4 separate regions of the Homo sapiens genome follow, and regions 1, 2 and 4 are each linked to region 3. Evidence: fine-mapped expression QTL. A gene starts in region 3. Each other region holds a variant in brackets. All regions are shown on one strand. Distances are between the middles of the regions.

Region 1 (6,164 bases), 92 kb before region 3:
TTGCAGCTTCCTCTTCATCTACCATTCGAACTAATTCAAGCTATGTAATATTTCCCACTGAACCTTCTTGCCTCTACTTCCTCATCTTTAACATGGTCAAAATACCTGTCCTGCCCAAGTTAGTTATTTCATTAAAGTAGAAAAATACAAGAGAAGCTTTTAAAATGTGAAAACCTCAAAATGAATGTAAAAATTATGATGATTCCTTTAGAATTTGTCAACACCTTCTTTTTCTCTACTCCTGCTAGGCATTTACAATCTCAAAACCATGTATTTAAGATGCAAAACTATATTTGTATTTGCCATAACTGGTTTCTTTCCCTATGGCTTCATGAAAATGTGGCTCGAATGTGTTTATTATGAAAGCCCCAAATTAATCACGACAAGACTTCACCAGCCCATTCCACAATAGACTCCCATTACTTTGCCCTGACTTAGAAACCTCATATACAGTCTTGATTCAGTACAGCTCTGTGATGCTCTTGGAAAATGCAAAGTGCTTTCTTAATTGAGGCAATCTGTGTCCCACTACAGAGAGGTGGTTTAACTTGTGAATTCAGGAAAGCAACTGGTTTGACTCAATTTTTTGGCCATGTTCTCAGTTCATTTTATTTAAAGCAATCAAACTGATGTGTGTGTTCTATGTTCATTGAACCATAGTGGGTTTACATAAGCTCATAGTTTTAGTTGTTCTTTTTACATTCTACTCCTCTGGTTTGAGCTTCTATGTTTTGTATATTTCCATTCATGGGGTTGAGATATTTGATTCAGGCTTTATATTTTCTGAGGCCCGGAATAAGTATTTCTTCCACACTTTAGGAAGTGTGGTCCTCTTCACTACTCTATGTAAACAAGAGGAAACTAACAGGTTGTGGTGGGATTAGAATTTAGTTTATTATTAGAACTCAGTTTATTTTGCCAGGTTTTCTGGCAACTTTACCTCTTTTCTTTGTCAGGGCACTTACGCTTTCTCCTGACGCAGTGGAAACTCCACAGGGCCAGGGCTCAGGGCTTTCTTGCTCACATTGTCTCCACTGCTGACTCAGAGCCTGGCATGTAGTAGAGGTACAGCATGTGTGTGTGTGTGTGTGTGTGTGTGTGACACAGACAGAGAGAGACAGAGAGAGTGAGACACAGAGAGAGACAGAGAAACAAGAGAGACACACAGAGAGAAAGATGGTGAGACAGAGACATAGAGAAAGAGAATAAATAAAACTTTACCAGCCGAAAAAAAGAGAAGAGAAAAGCAGGCAAAGGACGTGCCATTGAGCTAGCATTCATTCAATAACTGATGCACCAGGCGCTGTGCTAAAAACACATCCAGTTGTCATAAAATCCATTCACTCATCAGGAAATCTTTTAGTATTTCCTTACAGTCTATTAATAGTTTTGACAGCTGTAACAAGCATATGAATTTCCACCTGTTGGATTAAAAGCAGCACATTTGGGCTGTGATAAGTACCATTTGTGGACACATGACAGCAGCAAGAAGTGACATCCTGAGAAGGAAAAACATAAACTACGTATAATAAGAAAAATGAATAAATATGAATATTTAAGACTCTGCTTTTCTGGGTGTGTATGTTTCCTGTGCTTTTGTTGTATAGAAGAGGGGTTGTAAGTGTGGGAGTAAAAATATTAGGGTAAAGGAAATCTAGATAAACACTGACCAATCTACATTTGAAAGGAGCTTGTGATGTTCTGAGAGGGGGTGAGGAGGGTTGTGAATATATTTCACAGTTTTTTTTTTTTTTGACAGTTGTTATTTAGTTTTTATTTAGCTTTATATAGTTTTATTTCATAATCATAAACTTAACTCTGCAATCCAGCTAGGTATGGAAGGGAATAGGGAATATATAACACCCAAAGGAGCTGTAGCAAGAGCACAAAGATTATAGGATAACGTGAGCAAATGGGGTGGAGGGGTGCTCTCACAAGGTCTGTGGTTAGGATAAAACACAAGTCAAATTTATTAGAGTTGTGCACAGTCAGCAATGGTGATCTTGCTGGTTTTGCCCTTCCTGGACCCAAAGCTCTCCATGGCCTTCACAATACTCATGACTTCTTTCACCTTGCCAAAGACCACATGCTTGCCATCCAGCTACTCAGCCTTGGCAGTGCAGATGAAAAACTGGAAACCGTTTGTGTTGGGTTCAGCATTTGCCATGAACAACACAGGACCTGCATGCTTCAGGATGTAGTTCTTGTCATCAAATTTCTCCCTGTAGATGGACTTACCACCAGTGCCATTATGGCATGTGAAGTCACCACCTTGACACATAAACCCTGGAATAATTCTGTAAAAACAGGAACCCTTATACCCAAATCCTTTCTCTCCAGTGCTCAGAGCATGAAAGTTTTCTGCTGTCTTTGGAACTCTGTCTGCAAACAGCTCAAAAAAGGCATGACCCAAGATGTTAGATAATACAGTGGAGTTGACCATGGCTGATAGCAGGGGGCTCCGGGTGTCATCAGCATCTGCAAAGCCATGTATTTACCATTTTTGGAAGCCTTTTAATTTCAAAATGATTTTAGATTCACAGGAAGTTGCTAAGATTGTACTGAGAGGTTCCCCCATACCCTTTCCCTTTAAAAAAAAAAAAAAAAAAAAAA[G/AG]TTGGTGTCTGTCTATGTGGCCCAGGCTAGAGTGCTAAGACACAGGGCACCAAGTCCCTAGGCTGCACACAGCAGGGGGACCCTGGGCCTGGCCCAAGAAACTATACATTCCTCCTGGGAATCTGGGGCTGTGATGGGAGGGGTTGCCATGAAGACTTCTGACATGCCCTGGAGACATTTTCCCCATGGTCTTGGGGATTAACATTCAGCTCCTTGTTACTTATGCAAATTTCTGCAGCTGGCTTGAATTTCTCCTCAGAAAATGAGATTTTCTTTTCTATCGCATTGTCAGGCTGCAAATTTTCCAAACTTTTGTGCTCTGCTTCCCTTATAAAACTGAAGGCCTGGCCAGGTGTGGTGGCTCACGCCTGTAATCCCAGCACTTTGGGGAGCTGAGACGGGCGAATCACGAGGTCAGGAGTTCGAGACCAGCCTGGCCAACATGGTGAAACCCTGTCTCTACTAAAAATACAAAAAGTTAGCTGGGCATAGTCATGGGTGCCTTTAATCCCAGCTACTTGGGAGACTGAGGCAGGAGAATCGTTTGAATCCAGGAGGCGGAGGTTGCAGTGAGTCGAGATCACACCACTGCACTCCAGCCCTGGTAACAGAGTAAGACTCTGTCTCAAAAAAAAAAAAAAAAACAAAAAAAACTGAATGCCTTTAACAACACCCAAGTTGCTTCTTGAATGCTTTGCTGCTTAGAAATTTCTTCTGCCAGATACCCTAAATCATCTCTCTTAGGTTCCAAGTTCCACAAATCTCTAGGGCAGGGACAAAACGCTGCCAGTCTCTTTACTAAAACATAACAAGAGTCACCCTTGCTCTAGTTCCCAAAAAGTTCCTCATCTCCATCTGAAACCACCCCCGCCTAGATTTCGTTGTCCATATCATTATCAGCATTTTGGTCAAAGTCATTCAACAGGCCTCTAGGGAGTTCCAAACTTGCTCACATTCTCCTGTCTTCTTCTGAGCCCTCCAAACTGTTCCAATCCCTACCTGTTACCCAGTTCCAAAGTCGCTTCCACATTTTTGGTTATCTTTTCAGCCGTGCCCCACTCTACTGGTACCAGTTTACTGTATTAGTCGATTTTCATGCTGCTGATAAAGACATACCTGAAACTGGACAATTTACAAAAGAAAGAGGTTTATTGGACTTACAATTCTACATCACTTGGGAGGCCTCACAATCATGATGGAAGGAGAAAGGCACATCTCACATGGCAGCAGACAAGAAAAGAGCTTGTGCAGGGAAACTCCTCTTTTTAAAACCATCAGATCTCATGAAATTTATTCATTATCATGACAATAGCACAGGAAAGAACTGCACCCATAATTCAGTCACCTCCTACCAGGTTCCTCCCACAACACGTGAGAATTCAAGATGAGATTTGGATGGGGACACAGCCAAACCATGTCACACTACCATGCCTGACTTCCTTTCCATTTTTGTATATTTGCTTGTTCTTCATTTGCCCGAGAAGTAACTCTAAAGGGCTGTATTATTTGGATATTAGATTGGCATTTTATCTGACTGGGATATCTTGCTGTGATTGTCCATGTATAAGATCAGCTTTTCTATAAGCCATATTTTTAAAAAGATATATTAATTTTTTAAAAATCCACCTGTCTAAATAAATGCACAAAGCCCCCCAAAAACCTAGATTCTAAGAAAAATCTATGTACTGCCATACAATGATTGATATTAATATTTATGGTGATAAATTACACACAAAAAATGTGTGATCTCTGTTTAAACAGGCAAAAACAAAAAACACATGAAATAAATCTATGGCATCTATAGCCAAAACTGGAAACAACCCACATATCCATCAATAGGAAATCAGTTAAATAAATTATAGTACATTTATCCAATGGAAGATTAAGCACATATTCAATATAATTATTTATACACACATATAGATACACACATGTATAAATATAGAGAATACTGTGGGTGTATGTGTGTGTGTGTTTATATACATATATATACACACACAGTACTGTTGCCTACCTTCTTTTGTCTTAATTCTGTGAACTCTCATTCACTCTGCTTCAGTAGGATACATCCTTCTTTTTGGTTCTTAGACTCACCAAGTTGATCCTTGACTCAAGACATTGCATTTGCTGCTTCCTCTTCCTGGAATATCCTTCCTTCTGATATTCACATGAGTAGTCTCTTCTTGTCATTCAGATCTCAAATGTCACAATTTCAGAGAGCCCATCTCTGATCATCATATCTAAAGTTGTCCTCATTCCCCCATAGCTTTCTATACCATGTTTTATTTTTTTCATAACATGTATTTTATTACTCCTTTCTCCATTGGAATAGAATCTCCATTAGATTAGGAAATCTGCCTATCTTATTAATGCCTGCAACTGGAATACTTTTGAAGAGTTCTTGGCACGTAATAAATACTCAACTAATATTTTTGTGTACACAGAAATAAAGTTTGGAAGAACAGATGCCAAATTGTTACTAGTGGTTACTTCTGAGTAAAGGAGTAGCATGGTAGGTAAATTATTAATAGATGTTCACTTTCCACCAAGATATGTTTTAGTTAGTCTTAACTTACTTGAAATGAAATTTATTACTTTAATAATTAGAAACATTGATAAACATTTTAGTCACAAGAATGATAGATAAAATTTTGATGCTTCCAATAAGTTATATTTATCTAGAGGATGCACTTATGTAGAATACTCTCTTGAGGATGTTAGGTGAGTAACATGTTACTATATGTAGTAAAATATCTATGATTTTATAAAAGCACTGAAACATGAAGCAGCAGAAATGTTTTTCCCAGTTCTCTTTCCTCTGAACTTGATCACCGTCTCTCTGGCAAAGCACCTAAATTAATTCTTCTTTAAAAGTTAACAAGACCAAATTATAAGCTTGATGAATAACTCATTCTTATCTTTCTTTAAATGATTATAGTTTATGTATTTATTAGCTATGCCCATCTTAAACAGGTTTATTTGTTCTTTTTACACATACCAAACTCTTAATATTAGCTGTTGTCCCCAGGTCCGAATGTTAAGTCAACATATATTTGAGAGACCTTCAACTTATCAAGTATTGCAGGTCTCTGATTGCTTTGGAACCACTTCTGATACCTGTGGACTTAGTTCAAGGCCAGTTACTACCACTTTTTTTTTTCTAATAGAATGAACAAATGGCTAATTGTTTGCTTTGTCAACCAAGCTCAAGTTAATGGATCTGGATACTATGTATATAAAAAGCCTAGCTTGAGTCTCTTTTCAGTGGCATCCTTCCCTTTCTAATCAGAGATTTTCTTCCTCAGAGATTTTGGCCTAGATTTGCAAAATGATGACCACATCTTTGATTTGGGGGATTGCTATAGCAGCATGCTGTTGTCTATGGCTTATTCTTGGAATTAGGAGAAGGTAAGTAATGTTTTATCTTTAAATTGCTCTTTGATTCATCCATTTAATTTTTTTACCTTCATTTTTATACAGTAAATTTGGTTTTCTATACTTACACATATTAGCATTATCTTCCTTATTTTTTAAATGAAAAATTTGATTTG
Region 2 (6,164 bases), 290 kb after region 3:
ATATGCAGAGATTAAAAATATACTTTCCAGGCCCCTTTACTTAGGAGGCTTACAGAGGGTGTGCTTCAGTAAGGTGAGAGAATAAACCTACAAAGAAAGAGATATGAGATCCAAGAAAAGAGGGGATTCCATCCAGAAGGGCAGCCAAAGGCGGTTCCCACATTCTGTTGATGAGAAGTCACAGCACAGCAGCTGTTGGAACAGCTTAGAGGGCAACTGGCCCTGAAATGACCCTGGAATAGAGATACAGGAAAGAGGTCTGTATGAGCACACATGAAATATTATTCAAAGGCATATGGCAGGAATGCTGGAACATTTGGGAAAATAATCTAACTCCAGATATATTAGAAAATACGGCGAAAGACAAAAAGGAGGTCATTAACTCTATAAAAAGAAGACTTTGTCTATAAGCAAAGAGGCATGGTTAAAGGATACTATGCAGAATGTGTAGCTATATTACATTGTCATAATAAAATTAACTTAAAAAGTAAACTAATTATGAAGACTCCCAACGTTATATAATTTCTGCTATCTGGCATAGTCCCTGGGCAATTCAAGGGGAAAGACAAACAAAAAATGAGTTTAAAACATTCCTACAGGTTTTCCGTACAGTACAGAGTAAATTTCATAGATTCAAAACTTACTAAATGAAGCATTCTCATATGGATGCTTGGAATCTGGGAAGCTAAGATTGACTGAAACCCAAATACTTCTCTTTACTTTCATGAGCTCTACTAGACTTCTGAGACCCACAGGAGAATACATCAAAAGCATTATTATGTTGTTCTATCAGTGAGACCATTGAAGCTGCATCCACAGTGGTGCGTGTGGACAACAGAGATCAATGGGCCTCTGGCTTCCCTGTTTGCATGGCACCTCCCCAGACCTAGCAGCCACACAGCATCTGGAGGCTCATCGCGCCTCATCCTATTACAGTGCTGATTTTTCTGCATGAACTTGCCACTGACTAAAATCTACATTTATTGTCTGTCTCCTGCACTGGAACTGAGCAAGCTCCAGAGGACATCACTGCATCCATTATTCACCGTTACATCCCTTTATATTCAAATATTTAAATGACTGAAAGAACAAAGGGTGTAACTGAAGGGAGTGGCATGTTTCTCCCATGTTTCTTATGGGGACACTCCGCCTTGCTTGGATGTTGGCTCTGGGAGGGAATGGGCCTCAGGGGATTCTGATGCCAGCCCCAACCCTGCCAGGCTTTTCAGTAACTATCACCTATTCTCCCAGTCTTCCATCTAGCCTAGTTACATCCATTCTTGTTTCTCCACCTTGGGAATTTCATGGATCCCAGAGGCATGTACTTTAAATGAGGGAATCTTTAGAACACAACTCTTGGGTAATAAATCAAAACCTCAACAATATGGGCTGACAGTCCCACCCTCGGAGCTCTTATTCTTATCTGCAGTGGAGGGGTAGCCACTTCTGGGATGGGATCCAGCAATCCATAAGCTCGTGTTCCAACACAAAAATAAATTACACAGAAAGATGTTCACCTGTTGAAATACCAGAGGTACTTCCTGAAATGCCCTGCCTGGAATTTCTCCAGGTAGATAATGGCTGTTGGTGGAGTTATTCTCTTATTCCTACATTCTCCATTATTCCTTAGTGTGCCACAGTCTACAGGATAATTCAGATGAGAGGGGCTGGATCAGGAAGACGAAAAAGTGGATAATTCAGTGGATAATTCAGACGAGAGGGGCTAGATCAGGAAGATGAAAAAGTGGATAGTTCAGTGGATAATTCAGATGAGAGGGGCTAGATCAGGAAGATGAAAAACACTCTTTCTACATAAAGAGGGATTCCTAAAGCAATCTCATTAAGAAAACTGTACGCTGTGGACCAGGTATTTGAAATAATAAAAAAAAATTATGTGCAAACATAGTTTGCCTATCTTCTTTAAATATGCTCCAGCCATGTGGTTCATATTTCCTCACTCTAGGTAGAAACCATGTGCCCTTGAGGAAGGTGTCCTCAGAGTCACTAAGTCCAGGACACGATTCTGGGATGTACAAATGTTGACTGAAGGTATGAATTTGGAAGTCGGACCGACCTTGGCTTGGCCCTGGGCTCTGTGGCTTACTGGCTACATTTCCCAGAAGCAGGTTATTTACTCAAACCTGAGTCTTGGTTTTCTCAATAGTAAAAGAGCAATGATAATAACCAACCTTACCAGATTGTTGAGGATGTAGAATGAGATAATCTGAAGAGAGCGCTTAGCGGCATGCCGAGTGCAGTCAGTACCAAAGAACTGCCACAAGCAGAGTGGTCATATACTCTCTTTCCACAGGCCAGCCTGGGAAGCAGTACAACCCTGAAGAATCTCTGCAGACAGGTCAGTGGGAAGAACTAAAGCTATCAGAGGGGTCTGGATATATCCTACAGTGATTGCAACAAGACTATAAGTACCCTTGCCAGTTAGAACCAAGTTATTTGGAATATTAGATCTTCAGTCACAAGGATAAATTTACGCACCACTATTTCTCCCTAGTATGGTCTGAATGTGTCCCCCACAAAATTCCCATGTTGAAACCTAACCCCCAGTGCAACAG[T/C]ATTAAAAAGTGTAGCCTTTAGGTGGTGATTAGGTCATGAGGGCATCAGTCTCATGAATAGGATTAGTGCCCTTTTATAAAAGAGGCTTACGGGGGTGTGCCTGTCCCTTCCCCCATGCGAGGACATAGCAAGAAGTCACCATCTGTGGGGACGGAGCCCTCACCAGACACCAAATCTGCTGGTGCCTTGAACTTGGACATTCCAGCCTTCAGAACTGAGCAAATAAACTTCTGTTGTTTACAAATTACCCAGTCCAAGGTATTTTGCTATAGCAGCTCAGACTAAGTTACCCTCTAAACTCAAATTAAGAGAAAATAAGTTATGAGGGGAGAAAAGGGAGGGCATGCACACGAACTTTCTTCAGGAATGCTGCCTGCTTTGGGTTGGCTCCATTCTGGATTTCAGTCCAGCCACCTCCAGTAAGGGGCAAGTGAACAGGTACTTTTCAGAGTATTTGTTTTTTGGTTTCTAAAGGATGCCATTATCTCATTTCTTCAGAAAATCATGAATAATTTTAGTTCTGAATGTTTGAAGTAATATAAGAATAATGTCTGTAGGCAATGTTAAAACAAGAATCTAAAAATGAGACTGTAAGGCCAGCAGCACGAATATGGTTGAGTGGCTTTTTAAACTTATCATTATGAGGACTGCTACCTGTTTCAGGCAAACAGTGTTCCCCAGGCTGCACCAAAATAACATCTGAAGTTATATCACTAAGAATGAGGTACTTTTCAAACTGTGCTTTTATGGTTTCAAAAGGGGATTTTTGGAGTTTTTAATCCATAAGTGGCCTGGAAGATGCTCACAACTGATGCTGCTACAAGGTGCTGCTGCTTTGTAACTAAAAGTGTGAAGGCACTGAAGGTAAACAGTCTCCTTAGCACAGACACTTTGGAAGCAGCAGCAGCTCAGCCCCAGGTACCACGCCCCACCCTGCCTTAGAAGTAAGCATCTGCAATTAAGCCTTCTACTTAAGCTAGTCTGAAGAAACTTCCCACCGCTAATCTTCCGGTAAGCACCCAGACCCAACCGGAAATTTGGTCTCCCCTACCCCCTTCAAAAAAGATAACCCGTTTTGGGATGGGAAGAGTGAAATCCTAATGTCCTGGAATGCGGCTAGTTTCCATTCTCATGGTTAGTAAATCTGCAGAGCTTTCTGGCTCTTGAGACCTGACTGAGGCTTAATCTCTGGCTGTATCAATCTGCATTGGCATTTCCAGGACAGACCATGCTCATTCAACAAATGTCTGGAAAGTAATGTCACAGAACAAGGTCAGTGGAGAAAGGAGAAATAAGAGAAGAAATATATTGAATTGGGTCCCTTGGGATTATGGAAATAGCATTATTATCAATAAAGAGATTAATGACAATGGGGTAAACATTTTTAAAACTTAAAGCTAAACATAAAGCTAATGACATTTGTGAACACAGGATTTATCTTTTTCACATCCAAAGATGTTACTCTAGAATCTTTCCGATATTTTCTGGAAGCTGATTTGACAGTGTTGTATAATTATCTATAAAGACAGATACTTCTTAATTTTAATTTTAAACATGCTGTCTTGTATTTAATGTCCGTTAGTTTTCTGAAAGAGTTTAACAGAGAACTAAGTCTCCACTCTATTAAGTTTAATGCAAATTAAATAAAGAAATTGCAAAAATGCCTTCTGGTTATAGACTATGTTTATTTATGTACATATTCATTAGGCACATACTACATAATAATAATGATTATAGAAATAGCACTCAGACCGTGCTTACTATGTGCCAGAACCACTCTAAGGCATTTTGCAAATACGAACATATTAACTCTTAACAATGACTCTATGAGGCAGGGGCTATTACTACCCTTCATTTTACAAATGAAGAAAATGAGGCCCAAAGATGCTAAGGCATTCAATACTTTACCCAAGAAAACCCTCGCTCTACCTTAGCTAGAGAGAGATGGAGTTGGAATTTGAACAAGGCAGGCTGGCTCCACTATAGATGCTTCTCATGACTACCATGTGGCCAAGGAAGAAATTGAGGTGCTGAGAGGTTAAAGCCTCCCCCAAATTTGCCATCCCCACTTTTGGCAGTAGTTCTGTTGCTCTGTGCTTATGTATCAAAGCTGAGGTTTCTGAAGCTTTTTCTGCAGTTTTCTTCTGGCTCTTTTCTCGAATACTGGTTCATGGGTCATCCCACTGGGATGTAAATTAGAATAAAGTATCTGTGTCCAGCTGCCATCAAGAAAGCACCACATCGAATCACATCAACTGTTCTCAGGTAGAGCTCAGTTAGCTTCTGCTTTATTAGATTCAGAGAAAAATACCTCACTGAGATTCCCTAATTGGTTTACCTAATAATACTGATTTTTCCCTCACACCGGTTAAGGGATTCTGGACAGATCGGCACAAAAATGCTATAAAATAAACCTGCCACAATAGAGGCTCTTTGCTTTCAGCCATCCTGTCAGATCCTGAGATATGCACTCACCTTCTCACTTGCTTTCTTTAGGTCTCGAGGGAGCAGCTAGGCTTATACTCCTGAAGGCAGCCCCCAAATGCTGTGTGCATCGCGTTAAGAAGCTTGAAATGGTTTTGAGTTAGCAAACCATTCCTGATGCTCTACAATCTGTTCTCCAGCCTCAAGAATTGAGAATTATAAGCCTTAAATGGAATACATTCTGGACAAAACAAATAAGGTAATTTACTTGTCTTTTTTTTAATCTCTTCCTGGAAACTGAATGTTCATTCATTTATAATCTCTTGGTTTACTATCATGACACATTCAAGTTTCAGTGCCTGGGAGAAATAGGACTCCCAAGAACTTCAAAATAGGCTTATTCCACAGATGTGTTACAGAAGATTTAAAAGTATTACGAAATATATCTGGTCTGAATATTAGGGTTGGCATATTTGTATATGAAATAGGTGGGTTAGCTCCTTCTTTATTCAGGCATTGTTCTATCTGTCAAATAAGAAAAGCCTCATTGAAAAGGGGATATCTGAGCAAAGTTATGAAGAAGGTAAAGGAGTAACCACAGAGATGCTAGGGGAAAGACAAGTGCAGAGGCCTGGAGGACAGGTGTGGCTGGCATGGGAGGAAGGAGATGGAGAGATAATGGACACAACCTGTCAAGGACCATGGCTGTCTTCAAGGAGAATGGGACTCTACTGTGAGGTTTTGCATCCAGGAGAGAGGGCTCAGACTCACGGGTTAGAGGGAGCTTTCTGAATGCTCTGTTGGGAAAAGACTGCAAGAGGGAAGAACAGAAGCAGGAAACAGTTAACAGGCTAATGCAATGATCCGAGGGGTTTGAACCATGATGGCAGTGGTGAAAGCTGGTTGTTTTCTGAATATATTTTAAAAGTACAGCCAATTGGTTACCAGGCATGCATGCATGTATGTATGTACGTATGTATGTCTTCCATACTAGTATTTAAGCAGTCTTGATCTGTTTTGTGTTCTGCATTCCCAGGGCCTAAAACAGGACCTGGTACACAGAGTTTACAAATATCCTGTTAAACAAGTGAACGAACTGGCCAGGGTCCAAAGTGCTTCCAAGTGGTTGGGCTGGGATTCCAATCTGGGCCTTTCTCTGGCTTCCA
Region 3 (6,164 bases):
CCCACTCCCTCCCCGTCCAACCTATGTAGAAACAGATAATATGTGGAGGAAAACTGGGACAGAGTATACAACTAAATACCTTAATGAACATGTGTGTGGCGGGCTGAGGGACACCAGAAGAGAAAGCAATTCAGAAATACTATTGAACACTGGTGAGGTTTTGGGCTTAGTTTTGCCACTAACAATCCCACCCCTAACTTTCCCCATGACCATCTCCTTATTTGAGGGGGATGAAGGGAGCTATGAAAATCTACTCTGATATGCAAAAAAACATTTCCGAGTCTGCAGTTTGTAACCTGGGGGCTCCCAGGGCTGGGAGGCCTTTTGGGAAGCAACTATGCAGCTTTTCTCTGGTGGTACCTGGAACACTCCCTCCTGATTCAGATGCTGACAAACCCTACACTGCATGGCAGCTAAGATACACTTACTCAGGGGTAATTCTGCTTGTTCCAATTGGTAATATGTTGCCCCTTTACTCACTCTGAAAGACTCTTAGAGCAAGCTGTTAGGGAAGTAAGAAATATCTACTGAAAGCTGCACGAACTGCGTAACTCTTAAGAAAAGCATGTCTAGATTAAACGGTAACAAGATAATCTATAAATAATCAATATCCAAGGTACCATTTGGGAAGAACATTATTTAATTCTTTTAAACTTTTGATACATACTTTATTTCTTGATATGCCATCCCTTTGGCTGTTTTCAAGTTTCTTTGCAAGTTCTTCACATTCATATTAAGTTCTAAAGGAAAGATTATCAATACTTAGATACTGTACTTGATACACCAAATCACATTCATAAAGAAATCAGTTATCTTCCTACTGCCCTAACCTACAACAAGTAGACAGGAGATGAAAAAAAAAATCCCCATCATAACTTAGGGTGGAAATGAAGGCATTCTCACAATTAGCAACATCTACCAGAGTATCTCCAAACATTAATCGTACTTTGATCCACTGGATTAAGACTGCAAACAATTTGCCAAGAATCAGGTGGTCATTAAGCAAGCTGTTCTCACTTTTCACATAAAAAGAAGAAATGGATTTAAATTAGGGAAAGGACATTAAGTTACACACTCTATTAACTTTAATGATATTAGAATTGACTAGCCAGGGAAAGTTATAGCATCTTTCTCCTGAGGAAAAAGGAATCAAATATTTGCCCAGCAACAACTGAGCCAGGATAATGTAGGAATTTTGCATAGGCCCTTTATAACATTATTTAATCCTTACACCACCACCAGCACCCTGACCTTCCTCAGTTTACAAATGAAGACACAGGATCAGACAGGTTAAGACATTTCTCCTAAGTTCACAAAACTACTAAGTAGCAGGACTAAGAGGCAAACCAAAATTGGTGGGACTACTAACTCCATGCTGCCTCTTAGTGATGTGGGTTTATAATAGGAAAGATGAGGTACACAATAGCTTCCTATCCCTTGATACTGTTTACTACTACTGAACCAACTATGGGAGCTGGAACTATTCTACATTAAGTTCACCTCCTAATGTTACACTGATCTCTCCAGCCTCCAAATTCTTCGCTTTATGCACTGCTTATTTTGGCACCCAATCATACTCCATCTTAAAATGTTATGCTAAGTATTCATACCCTATTTCTCCGAAGAAATCTGTAGGCTTCCAAAAGGTAGAACTGTCTTTTACACTTACATACCTACCCATCAATAGAGTTCAGCACCGACTAAGGATTTGATGTCCTTATTTCCACATTCGCAAAGCTCAGCAGTATGTTACAATGGATGGTGGTTTGTTCACATTAGAATGAAGTGTGGTTGTAAAGTAATACAGTAAAACTGTTCTACCAAGATTCTCCTTAGTATCTCCTTACTGATATTTACTTGTCAAATTTTTATCAATAATCTTATAATGAGACACAAAAACGCCTAAAATGAGAAAAGTGGCGTTAGTATCTGATAAAACGGGATTTGGTGCGCTACTATTTAGCTAACTAATACTAGTGTCCTACACAACATTACGAAATTTTATTTCCCAGTTTCTTCAGTGCAATGTTTTAAAGACCACAGCTTAGACAACTAGGCTGTATGGGCATAGAGTGCATCGCTTTCCTTCACCCCTTTAAAAGAAAAACCTACCTGATAAAATGGAACCATTTTTATATTTAAGTAAGCAAGTCAGAAATAGCATCCAAGACAAAAAAGAACAAATCACGTATCATTACTGTTCAGGTGACTGTCTACTTCCCTGCGGCCACAGTAACCTTTCTTCTGGAGTAAGTCTCAAGAAGGAAGCATCAACCCGTGAACCGACCAACTGACCCCGCAAAATGTCATTCTAAACGAATAGCTATTTTTACATCATACGTGGGGTGGAAGGGAGACAAAGCACCAGCGCTGGAGGCTTGGGCACTTGTGTTCACGACCACCACAGTGTCAAGACCCGACATCGGGAGACCGGGCGCCGGATTCTATCCCCAGACGGGGTCGGGGAAAGGCTCCGCCGAGGCCAGAGGTGGCCTCCAACTCGCACCAGCCCGCGCCGTCACCAGCCCGCGTCCACCGCCGCGCTCCCTCCCCCGGCTCCTCGCCTCACCTGCAAATCCCGCGCGCTCGGAGGCCGCGGCCCGGAAGACCTCCTCTCCTGCTCGCCGGGCTCAGGGCCTCCGCCCTCCGCCATCTTCCGCTGGCTAGCGGCGCCCGCTGCGGACGCACCTGCCGCAACTTCCGGGGCCGGTTGCCTGGCAACCGCAGGAGGGGCGAAGACGCGCAAGGTGCGTGCGCGTCCCCGCTACCCGAACCCGCGCCCCCGCTTCCGGTGCTGGCCCACCTTTTTGGTTTCTCCTTTTTTCTTAAAGGGAGTTTCTCCGCAGGGAAACCTCTGTTAAGTTTTGTGTTGCTCCTGCTACTCGCCTAAAGGCACTGTAGGCCGCCCTAGAGGGCAGCATAGACTTGCAGATTCATTTAGCTCAACAATGAAAACATCCTCTGGATTTTTCATCTGATGAAAAATTGCAACCTCTCCATCTAGTCTTGGTCAGATTCTCTGATCTTTCCTATCAAGGATTGGATGGTACATCGTCACCACAGCGTGAATTAGCACTGAGAGTGAAAAACACCGTAAAAAGTGCTTGGAATAATTTGCTAAAAGCAGAACTCTGCCGGGCCTGTGGCTCACGCCTGTAGTCCCAGCACTTTGGGAGGCCGAGGCGGACGAGGTGATCGAGACCATCCTGGCCAACATGGTGAAACCCCTTCTCTACTAAAAAAAAAAATATATATATATATATATATATATATATATATACACACACATATATATATACACATATATACACACACATATATATATACACATATATATACATATATATACACATATATATATATATATATACACAAAAATTAGCTGGGCGTGGCGGAGCGTGCCTGTAGTCCGAGCTACTGGGGAGACTGAGGCAGGAGAATCGCTTGAATCAGGGAGTCGGAGGTTGCAGTGAGCCGAGATCGCGCCACTGCACTCCAGCCTGGCGACACAGGGAGGATCCGTCTCAAAAAAGAAAAAAAGCAGATCTCGAGACTATCAAGCCCTCGTCATTCAACTGAAATTGATTTAGACTCTGGTCTTCTTATCCTAGGCACTTTTTGTTTTTGAGACGGAGCCTCGCTCTGTCGCCCAAGCTGGAGTGCAGTGGCGCGACCTCGGCTCACTGCAGCCTCCACCTCCCGGGTTCAAGCAATTCTCCTGCCTCAGCCTCCCGAGTAGCTTGGACTACAGGTGCGTGCCGCCATGCCCGGCTAACTTTTGTATTTTTAGTAAAGACGGGGTTTCACCATGTTGGCCAGGATGGTCTTGATCTCCTGACCTCATGATCTGCCCACCTCGGCCTCCCAAAGTGCTGGGATTACAGGCGTGAGCCACTGCGCCTGGCCTCCTAGGCACTTTTATGCCCAAGGGATGCAAAGGTAAAAAGAAATAGTCCCAGTCATTATGAAACTCAGTCTAGTAGGGAAAAGAGACATGTAAACGGGTAAGATGCAGCTTGCAGTAGAGCTTTGCTTGGGAGGGTTACAAAGGAAATGTGAGCCATGTGAGGGGAAATACTCCGTTGGTATCTGCTGTGTGCACCATGCTAGGTGCTGGAGTCGACAGCTTGCCGCCCGAGCTTTGGCATACTGATCGTTTTGATGTATAAAGGCATTTGAGGCTGGGCGTCGTGGCTGACGCCTGTAATCCCAACTCTTTGGGAGGCCGAGGCAGACGGATCACTTGAGGTCAGGAGTTTCAGACCAGCCTGGCCAACGTGGTGAAATCCTGTCTCTACTAAAAATACAAAAATTAGCTGGGCGTGGTGGCGCGTGCCTGTAGTCCCAGCTACTTGGGAGGCTGAGACAGGTGAATTGCTTGAACCCGGGAAGCAGAGGTTGCAGTGAGCAGAGATGCACCATTGCACTTCAGCCTGGGTGTCACAGAGAGACTCCGTCTTAAAAACAAAAAACAAAAAACAAAAAAAAGCATTTGATAAACAGCAGGTGCAAGAAGAGCACTCTGACCTTTTCTTCCTGAAAGCAGGAAAAGAAACTACCATGTGATAGATGCCCTCCCTATACCAAGAGGAAAGATACTCATCACCAGAGAAGGGGAGTTGAGGCCGAGAAACATCTGTACAGATATTGTTAAACTAACCAGTATCTTCCTAGATACTCTTCCACGATTGCCTCTCTTTGTTCAACCTAGTATATAAGCACTTAGGCCTAGCCACTTCTTCGGGTGTTTATTTTCCTGTGAGGACACCCACTTATACGTAAAGTTTTATTAAATAAAATTTGTATGCTTTTTCCCTGTTAATCTGTTTTGTGTCCGTTTAATTCTTGGACCCAGCTGGAGACTCTGAGAGAGTAAAGGAGAAAATTTTCTCCCCCAGCTGTGCATTCCCTGTGTAATTTCATTTATCCCTCTACCAGGTAGTTATGATTATCTTGTTATACCCGAGGAAACCAGATGATGAAGACTAACTTCACCCTGTAGTAAATGGCAGTGCCAAATACTAAACTGCACTTGTTTTCCTGATACTCTCTTAACATCAGATTCTGCCCTAGAAATCTCGGGCTCTTTAACAAGAAATGCCTCATAGAGCCAAAGACATTTTAGCTGAGTGTTGAAGGAAAGTACTTCCAGTAGAAGTATTAGACCAGAAAGAATCTTGGTAAAGGCAAAGATATTTACAAAGACACTGATATTTAAAATATTATATTCATGTCAGCAAATTGCTATATGGTTGCAACTTAGAAATGACAAAAGATGGTTATGGAATGGTGGGGAGGAGACAGATGTAGAATGGAGGCTTGAGACAGATTCTGAAGGATCTTGCCTTAGGTTGGGGATGGAATCCTCTGAGCCAGTGATTCTCTAACATTCTTGTACATTAGAATCACCTCTTCTCTCTCGTCTCCAGGTACTCAGATTTATTAATAATTGGTATAGAGTGGGAGTCAGGCATCATATTTCTTAAGATGTTCGCAAAGTGGATTTTGCTGCTGGCCATGACAGTATACCTGATGTTGGACTTGTCCTCCCACTCTTAACAACTAAAAACAACAGTTTTAAGGCATTGAGCAACAGGCAGTACAGGTCTGTGATATCTGAAAGAAGGAAAACGAACAAGGTGACTATATTTGCCCAGGCTCTTTATTTTTATTTATTTATTTTTTGAGATAGGGTTTCTCTCTGTTGTCCAGGCTGGAGTACAGTGGTGCAATCACGCCTCACTGCAGCCTCAATCTGTCTAGTTAGAGCAATCCTCCCACCTCAGCCTCCCGAGTAGCTGTTGCCTTGGCTTTCTGCATGGAACTCTCATACACTGCTAGTGGGTCCTAGAATGGTACAGCCACTTTGGAAAAGAGGTTGTCAGTTTCTTCTAATGTTAAATATTCCATTATCATAAGAACCAGCAATTCTACTCTTAAATATTGACCCAAGAGGGATATAAGTATACATTTATAAAGTATTTCAACTCAAATGTTCATAGAAGCTTTATCTGTAATAGCCTGTAAACTGGAAACAATCCAAATGTCCATCAGCCAATGAATGGATACAATTTTGATAAATCATACAATGGAATACTACTCAATAGTAAAAAGGAAGAAGTTATGGATTCACATGTCTTGAATGAATCTCAAAGATATTATCT
Region 4 (6,164 bases), 320 kb after region 3:
GTGCTAATTTTCACAGAACTGCAGAAATTACAGCTTAGCCACAGATGACCTTCAAGTGAAGAAATACTTTATGATCCATATACACTAAAGTTCACCAATTCATGTGGCTGATGCAAAAATGTGCCTCCGATAGGCAGCATTAAGACCATAGAGTTGATGTGAAATAAAACCATTCATCTGTGAAGGTTTTTACTTTAGCCTCTCCTGCCCTTTGTTGGACCATTTGATTGTCATCTTAAAACGTCAAAGCTTTATTGCAGAGTTTTTACCACTGCTAAAGGAATATTCATGGCACTAGTCTCTTATCCTGTCAAAGGCAGTATTTATATACATGAGAATATAAAACTCTTGTAACAAGGAAAAATGTCACAGATTTACAAAGGATCAAGTTTACAAGGCAGCAAGTTGGTGTACATGTTGCACCCCATGAGCCCTCTGATCAAAAAGCTAGTATTAAAAGCAGAGAAGTCTGTCCTTGATAGTTTTTGGACAGAATATCACTTGGTCTTGGAATGCAGTTAGAACTCCTCCACCCTCTTTTCACTCTAAGGACACTGCTGAACCCAAGATGAAGGTGCAACTCTCAAGTGCGGCTCCATTTCCTTGTAACTTCTACACAAATTCTAGTGTGTGCCATCAACTGAAATCATAGAACTTTCTAAAGTTTGGGGAATGAGAGAAATATAATTTGGTTTGTTAAATAAGTATTCATATTCATAGCATCCCATAAAAAGAAGCATATACAATCCTTCTACTCAAATCTCTTCCAAGAATGAAGATAACACAGACAATGTATTATAGAGAAAGAAACACATTTCGTTGAATTCAGAATTCTGTCTAGAAATGTTATTTTACTGCAGGAGTTTTAAACTAGATATATGACTTGAAGCGTCATTTGGAACTGGGAATTCATCAAGTCAGTAAAATAATGAAGACATTTATGGAGAGACTTGGGTAAGAGGGAAGACTCACTGAATATATATATGAATGAAGCAAAATAAAGTTCAATGGAGAAACTAAAATTGTGATTGTCCTTTAAAATTAATTGTAGAATATTTATAATCCTAGCATACTACAACAGGTGTAAAATAAATACATTTTGATAGTCTGTGTGTTACTTAAAACTACTATCAAAATAAATTTTTTTCTTTTAATTACATTTTAGCAACATTTACTGGGCCCCTCTTATAAGCCAGTCAAGTGGGAACCAGGTATCAGGTATTGAGTTGAGGTCCTAGAGAGTTTTACTTCTGGGGAAGCCTCTTGGATTCACCCAACAGATAACATTTTTGAAAGTTACAAATTAGTTTTGTAAGACCAATTTACTTTCCCATTGATAATTTACTCATGTTTATATTAGTTCAATTGATTTTTAAACTGGGCACTGGCCCCTAAAGGTTAAAGTTTAGAATGTAATAAAAACTTTGAGGATCAGTAATCTTCAAAGTATTTTCTTACTACAGAAGCTTTCTTTAAAGACAATGTGGAACATTGGTATGCAAAATAGATGAATGCAGAGTGGTTTTGGCTAAAGGAGAGACCCAAATCTCAATCCCCATCAGCCTTGAAACCACTAATACTCCAGGGAACAGGGTTTGAAAATCACTGCTGGAGTTCAATTCATTCATTCTGCCGATGAGCCAATGAGGAGATGGCCCCAGAGAGAGAGGTCAAGTTTTGGAGTTGTGATGGCGAATGAGGCAGAGGAGCTTGTATCCTGGCTTTTCCAGTTATGACCCATGTAGCTTTGAGAGGTCCCTTTTCTCTGATGCTCTGTTGCCTCATCTATGAAGCTGATATAACAGTTTACTCCACCCCTCCAGGCCGCTGAAGTGAAAGTGCTTGTGAAATGTATATGCCTATTCAAAAAGCAAATTGCTACAGCTGCTGCTCTAACAGAAGCCTTAAATCAGAGAACTGGAAGCGAAGCCCACCGATCTAAGTCACAGACAGATAGGTGACCTCTCCAGGGCTCTAGATAAGGTAGAAGGTGACGCACAGCGCTGGTTTCTTTGGCACTACTACATGGTAAACACCCCTGAGGAGGAATCTTGGTTGGCATCTGCAGCAAGTTCTTTTGTTCAGAGAAACCTTCAGAAAATCTAATGTGCTGAAAAAACATGACTTCTAAATAGTAGGAAAATATTTACCTCCGAAGTCTGTGAAGCACCTGGCACCTAAAGCACACTGGACACTTGGCAAGACTGTTTAGAGGCACAGATCTGCAACCAGACGGTGTATGGTGTGAGCTCAGATCTAGCCCCATGATCACGTGCTATGTGTCCCATCAACTATCTGTTGTGAGAATGAAGGGAGATGATGCACTAAAGGGCTGAAGTGCCTGGTGAATGCCAAACAAAATACCAGCTCCACTGTCCTCACCTTGTGCAATATCACATAAGTCAGTCATGACAGTACGGAGCTATTAGCCCATTAACATTCCTTTGTCTTTACTGGGGGAAATATACCTCTATTGAAATGGACCCTTAAAGCATCACCATCCATCACTGACAAGTGAGGGGACTGGGAACTTTGCAAAGGTGGCAGTTTGTAGAGTATTTTACATATGAGAGCAATATTGCACAAATTTACAACAGAAGTAGCACTCTCTGTGGAATGTCCTAAGAAGTGCACAGTGGTCCTATTTATGCGTAACG[T/C]TAAGTGCCAATAAAGAGGTGACTTCTCAGTATGAGACTTAAGAACACTTCAGGTAGCACTTCAAAGCCAGGTTTCAGTCGTCTGAAAAACAAGATACTGACTGAATGAAAGGGTCTAATAATCATAAAATGGTTTTAAACATAGTGGAGTTTAAAATTAATAAGATACTATAAACATGTATAACATGAAGTATTATTAATAAAATATAATAAGAAATTCAAAATTGTTGCAGATTTGGCATAAAATGTCTTCAAGCGATCTCTTAATTTCCTGTTTCTTAATGGTAGATTTAAAGTCATATATTCATATAATTTTTTCTTTATTATACTTAGCATCTTAATCTAATGTGTAGTGACCAAAGACTGCTAAAAGTAAGAGAGATGCTCTCAAAGGCTCCAAATGAGGCAATTTACTTTGGCTTAACCCTCTTGGAGACTACCTTAGAAGAGCTGCAGATTCGGTTATGAACATGACCACTGTACATAGGTGATGAACACAGCGTTAATTTCATTTTAGCCACATTTATTAGGCCCCTCCTATAAGCCAGTCAAGTGAGAACCAGGTATCAGGTATTGAGTTGAGGTCGTAAGGAGTTTTACTTCTGGGGAAGTTGGCTTCACCAATCAGAAAACATTTTGGAAAGTTACAAATTAATTTTGTAAGCTAAATCATACTTTCCCATTGATAATTTACTCAGGTTTATATTAATTCCATTGATTTTTTAATTGAGCACTGGCCCCTAAAGGCTAGAGCTCCGTGTGTGAATGGCCAGTGCCCAAGAACTGCAGTGGGGGATAAACCACCCCGCAAAAACTTCATATGCAGCACACTTCATAACAGGGTCATCTGTGGGGGGTTCAAAGTAGAGAAAATAGATATCTGGTGGAGAAGAAAGTGAACATGATCTTAAAATGTTTCATAAATCAATGTGCCAGAGGTATTCCAGCATTCCTTATACTCTAAAAATGAATGTGAAACTTTTTCAGGCCCAAGTTCAATACAAACATCTCTCTGGCTCATAGGCCAATGGTCAAAATCTTAAATTAAATCTAGAAGTGTATCAACTTTTTGTTTGTTTTCTTGAGACAGAGTCTCGTTCTGTCACCCAGGCTGGAGTGCAGTGGTGCGATCTCGGCTCACTGCAACTTCCATCTTCCGGGTTCAAGCAATTCTCCTGCCTCAGCCTCCCGAGTGGCTGGGATTACAGGCACCCGCCACCACATCTGGCTAATTTTTATATTTTTAGTAGAGATGGGGTTTCACCATATTGGCCAGGCTAGTCTTTAACTTCTGACCTCAAGTAATCTGCCTGCCCCGGACTCCTGAAGGGCTGGGATTATAGGTGTGGGCCACCATGCCTGCCTACATGTGCATCAGCTTTACAAGACTCTTCAGTTGATTAAAGGAAGGGGGCATGACCCCCACAAAAAGTAATTTCTTCCCTTTACCAATACAGCATGGAATGCTGAATCACAAATACAACTAGGAGAGTAAATGAAAACGAAGCCTGCTTTTTCTCCTGTTTTTGATGCCAATTGCCAGGTTCAGAGAGTGATGCGTCAATCCCTACTCTGACTGCCCTAGCATCCTGTGCCTCGGTGTAGCCACTCTAACACCCTCTGTAAAAACAGTGTCCAGAGGGAAAGTCCTGGGAGGTGCAGGGTGCAACCTACTCCTTGTACTATGCTTAGAAACCAATGCCACTCGGTGGGGACATTTACCATCATTTCCTTGGTAATGATCCATAAAATCCCTGCTGGCACCTGACAGCAGCCTCTAGGGACATAATCCCCATGAATAGGTAAAGAGTGAAGCTTCACAACCCATTCTATCTGGGGATGGAGAGTTTAAGGTGTACATGGTGGTAAGACTTCCAGTGAAAAATCATGTTTAAAAAACGGAGATTTCACCAGGCACGGTGGCTCATGCCTATAATCCCAGCACTTTGAGCGCCTGAGGTGGGAGCATCACACGGTCAAGAGATCGAGACCATCCTGGCTAACATGGTGAAACCCTGTCTCTACTAAAAATACAAAAATTAGCTGGGCATGGTGGCGAGTGCCTGTAGTCCCAGCTACTTGGCAGGCTGAGGCAGGAGAATTGCTTGAACCAGGGAGGCGGAGGCTGCAGTGAGCCAAGATCACACCACTGCACTCCAGCCTGGTGACAGAGTGAGACTCCGTCTCAAAAAAAAAAAAAAAGGAAAATGGAGATTCAAGTCCACTGCTGGAAGGAAGGAAAACATAGAGAATTTTATAGAACCACATAAATTAGAAATGAAATTAAAATCAAACACTACTTATAGGCCAACAATCACTAGAATGATGCTTGAAAATATTATAGTTCATCTTCTCTTTAGCGAGGTGTACACCATCCATACCTTCTACTGACTCATTTTTTCCTCCACTATATATGATTCAGATGGCAGCCAGCAAGGTCTTGGTCATAAGCACAATTCAGTAGCCTGCTGACCTCAGGAAAGACAGCCTTGTAACTTCTGAAGATACACAGGACAGACCACTAATATGGTGAGCTAGTTTGAACCAAAGATTCAAATACACACAGTTCTGTGGTGGATTCTCTCATATGCCATTGATCCGGATCAACCAGGAGTTAGCCGTACTCTCCTATGTACCCAGAGCTTCAGTTCTGCCTAAAATTCATCATTTTCTTGGATCTCCTCACATTTTCTTCACTTCCAACTCCAGCACTACTAGTTACTGTTCTTCTTAGGATGATTTTTCAAATATAGAGTGTTTATCCCTTTACAAGAATGTCAGTGTCTCAAGGTGGGAAAGGTTCTTAATCCCCATTTCACCCCCAGGCAAACTAGACACTGGATACGTAATTTTTAATGGAACAGCAAATGATGAGAGAATTAACATACAGAACACGAAGCCCAGGGGAGGCGTGGATGGTGGGAGTGGCCTGCATTCTGTATTCTTCATTGGCCCTGGAGTGTGGGCTTTTAAAGGTGCCACTTCCCCGAAATAGCGGAATTAACACAAGTAGTGAACGTGGAGACAATCACAAATAATTGAATCTCTGAATATTGAATCTGTGAGTCCACAGGGAACAATCAATTTGAGCAAAATTTAAAAAATGAATAAATAAACTATGTAATCTGAATTCTAGAAACAAAACCCTATTTTAAACGCAGTTGAGGAGACCAAATTCAAGCAGCCTTTGAATAAAGCTAATTACGCCTTGATTATTCCTTACTTTGACTAGTTTAAAGTTTCACCCAAGTTCTTACCATTCTGCACCATAATGTTCAACTACAACTAAACATAAATAACCCAGTTTCTTCTGTTTCTTCTCCTCTTTTGTTTCTGACTTCATTTTTGCCTTTCTTTCTCCAGCAATAGACTGTGTCTCCCCTCTTTCAGTGAAATAGCGCTTCCAGCCCTGCTAAGCCCTGTGCTGTTGTGTCTTATATCTGAAGATGTTGCTGTCAGAGCTTGTGAGAGGCAGTGAGCAAAAAGATAGATGAGCAACGTACAGTG

Alleles and levels. Positions count from the first base shown, and alleles are read on the strand shown. Sizes are in standard deviations (SD) of each study's normalised expression. Not every link is listed here.
In carriers of allele AG in region 1, the expression in regulatory T cells of the gene that starts at base 2,678 in region 3 tends to be higher than with G alone (large effect, 0.79 SD a copy in Bossini-Castillo 2019).

What was found. PIP is the estimated chance that this variant, and not a neighbour inherited with it, causes the effect.
Region 1: its variant is the best candidate, but not a certain one, in a credible set for the expression of UBXN2B in regulatory T cells (Bossini-Castillo 2019, PIP 0.63).
Region 2: its variant is the best candidate, but not a certain one, in a credible set for the expression of UBXN2B in whole blood (TOPMed, PIP 0.86).
Region 4: its variant is the best candidate, but not a certain one, in a credible set for the expression of UBXN2B in whole blood (TOPMed, PIP 0.61).

The regions. Positions count from the first base shown.
Region 1 is chr8:58,499,876-58,506,039 of GRCh38, reverse strand. It overlaps CYP7A1 (cytochrome P450 family 7 subfamily A member 1), which reads left to right and starts at 5,877. Exons shown (of 6, transcript NM_000780.4): 1 at 5,877-6,021. The coding sequence starts at 5,942. It also overlaps the pseudogene PPIAP85. RefSeq lists an enhancer at 5,446-5,667, a promoter at 3,999-5,901 and a silencer at 5,999-6,164. The variant G/AG (reference allele first, on the strand shown) is at 2,614.
Region 2 is chr8:58,115,898-58,122,061 of GRCh38, reverse strand. All of the region lies in intron 3 of FAM110B (family with sequence similarity 110 member B), which reads right to left. Among named protein-coding and RNA genes, the nearest start is that of FAM110B, 120 kb to the right of the region's middle. RefSeq lists an enhancer at 3,385-3,958. The variant T/C (reference allele first, on the strand shown) is at 2,574.
Region 3 is chr8:58,407,875-58,414,038 of GRCh38, reverse strand. It overlaps UBXN2B (UBX domain protein 2B), which reads right to left and starts at 2,678. Exons shown (of 8, transcript NM_001077619.2): 1 at 2,570-2,678. The coding sequence starts at 2,653. RefSeq lists enhancers at 2,233-2,282, 2,563-2,612, 2,623-2,682.
Region 4 is chr8:58,083,089-58,089,252 of GRCh38, reverse strand. The region is part of intron 3 of FAM110B (family with sequence similarity 110 member B); the gene reads right to left. Among named protein-coding and RNA genes, the nearest start is that of FAM110B, 92 kb to the right of the region's middle. The variant T/C (reference allele first, on the strand shown) is at 2,658.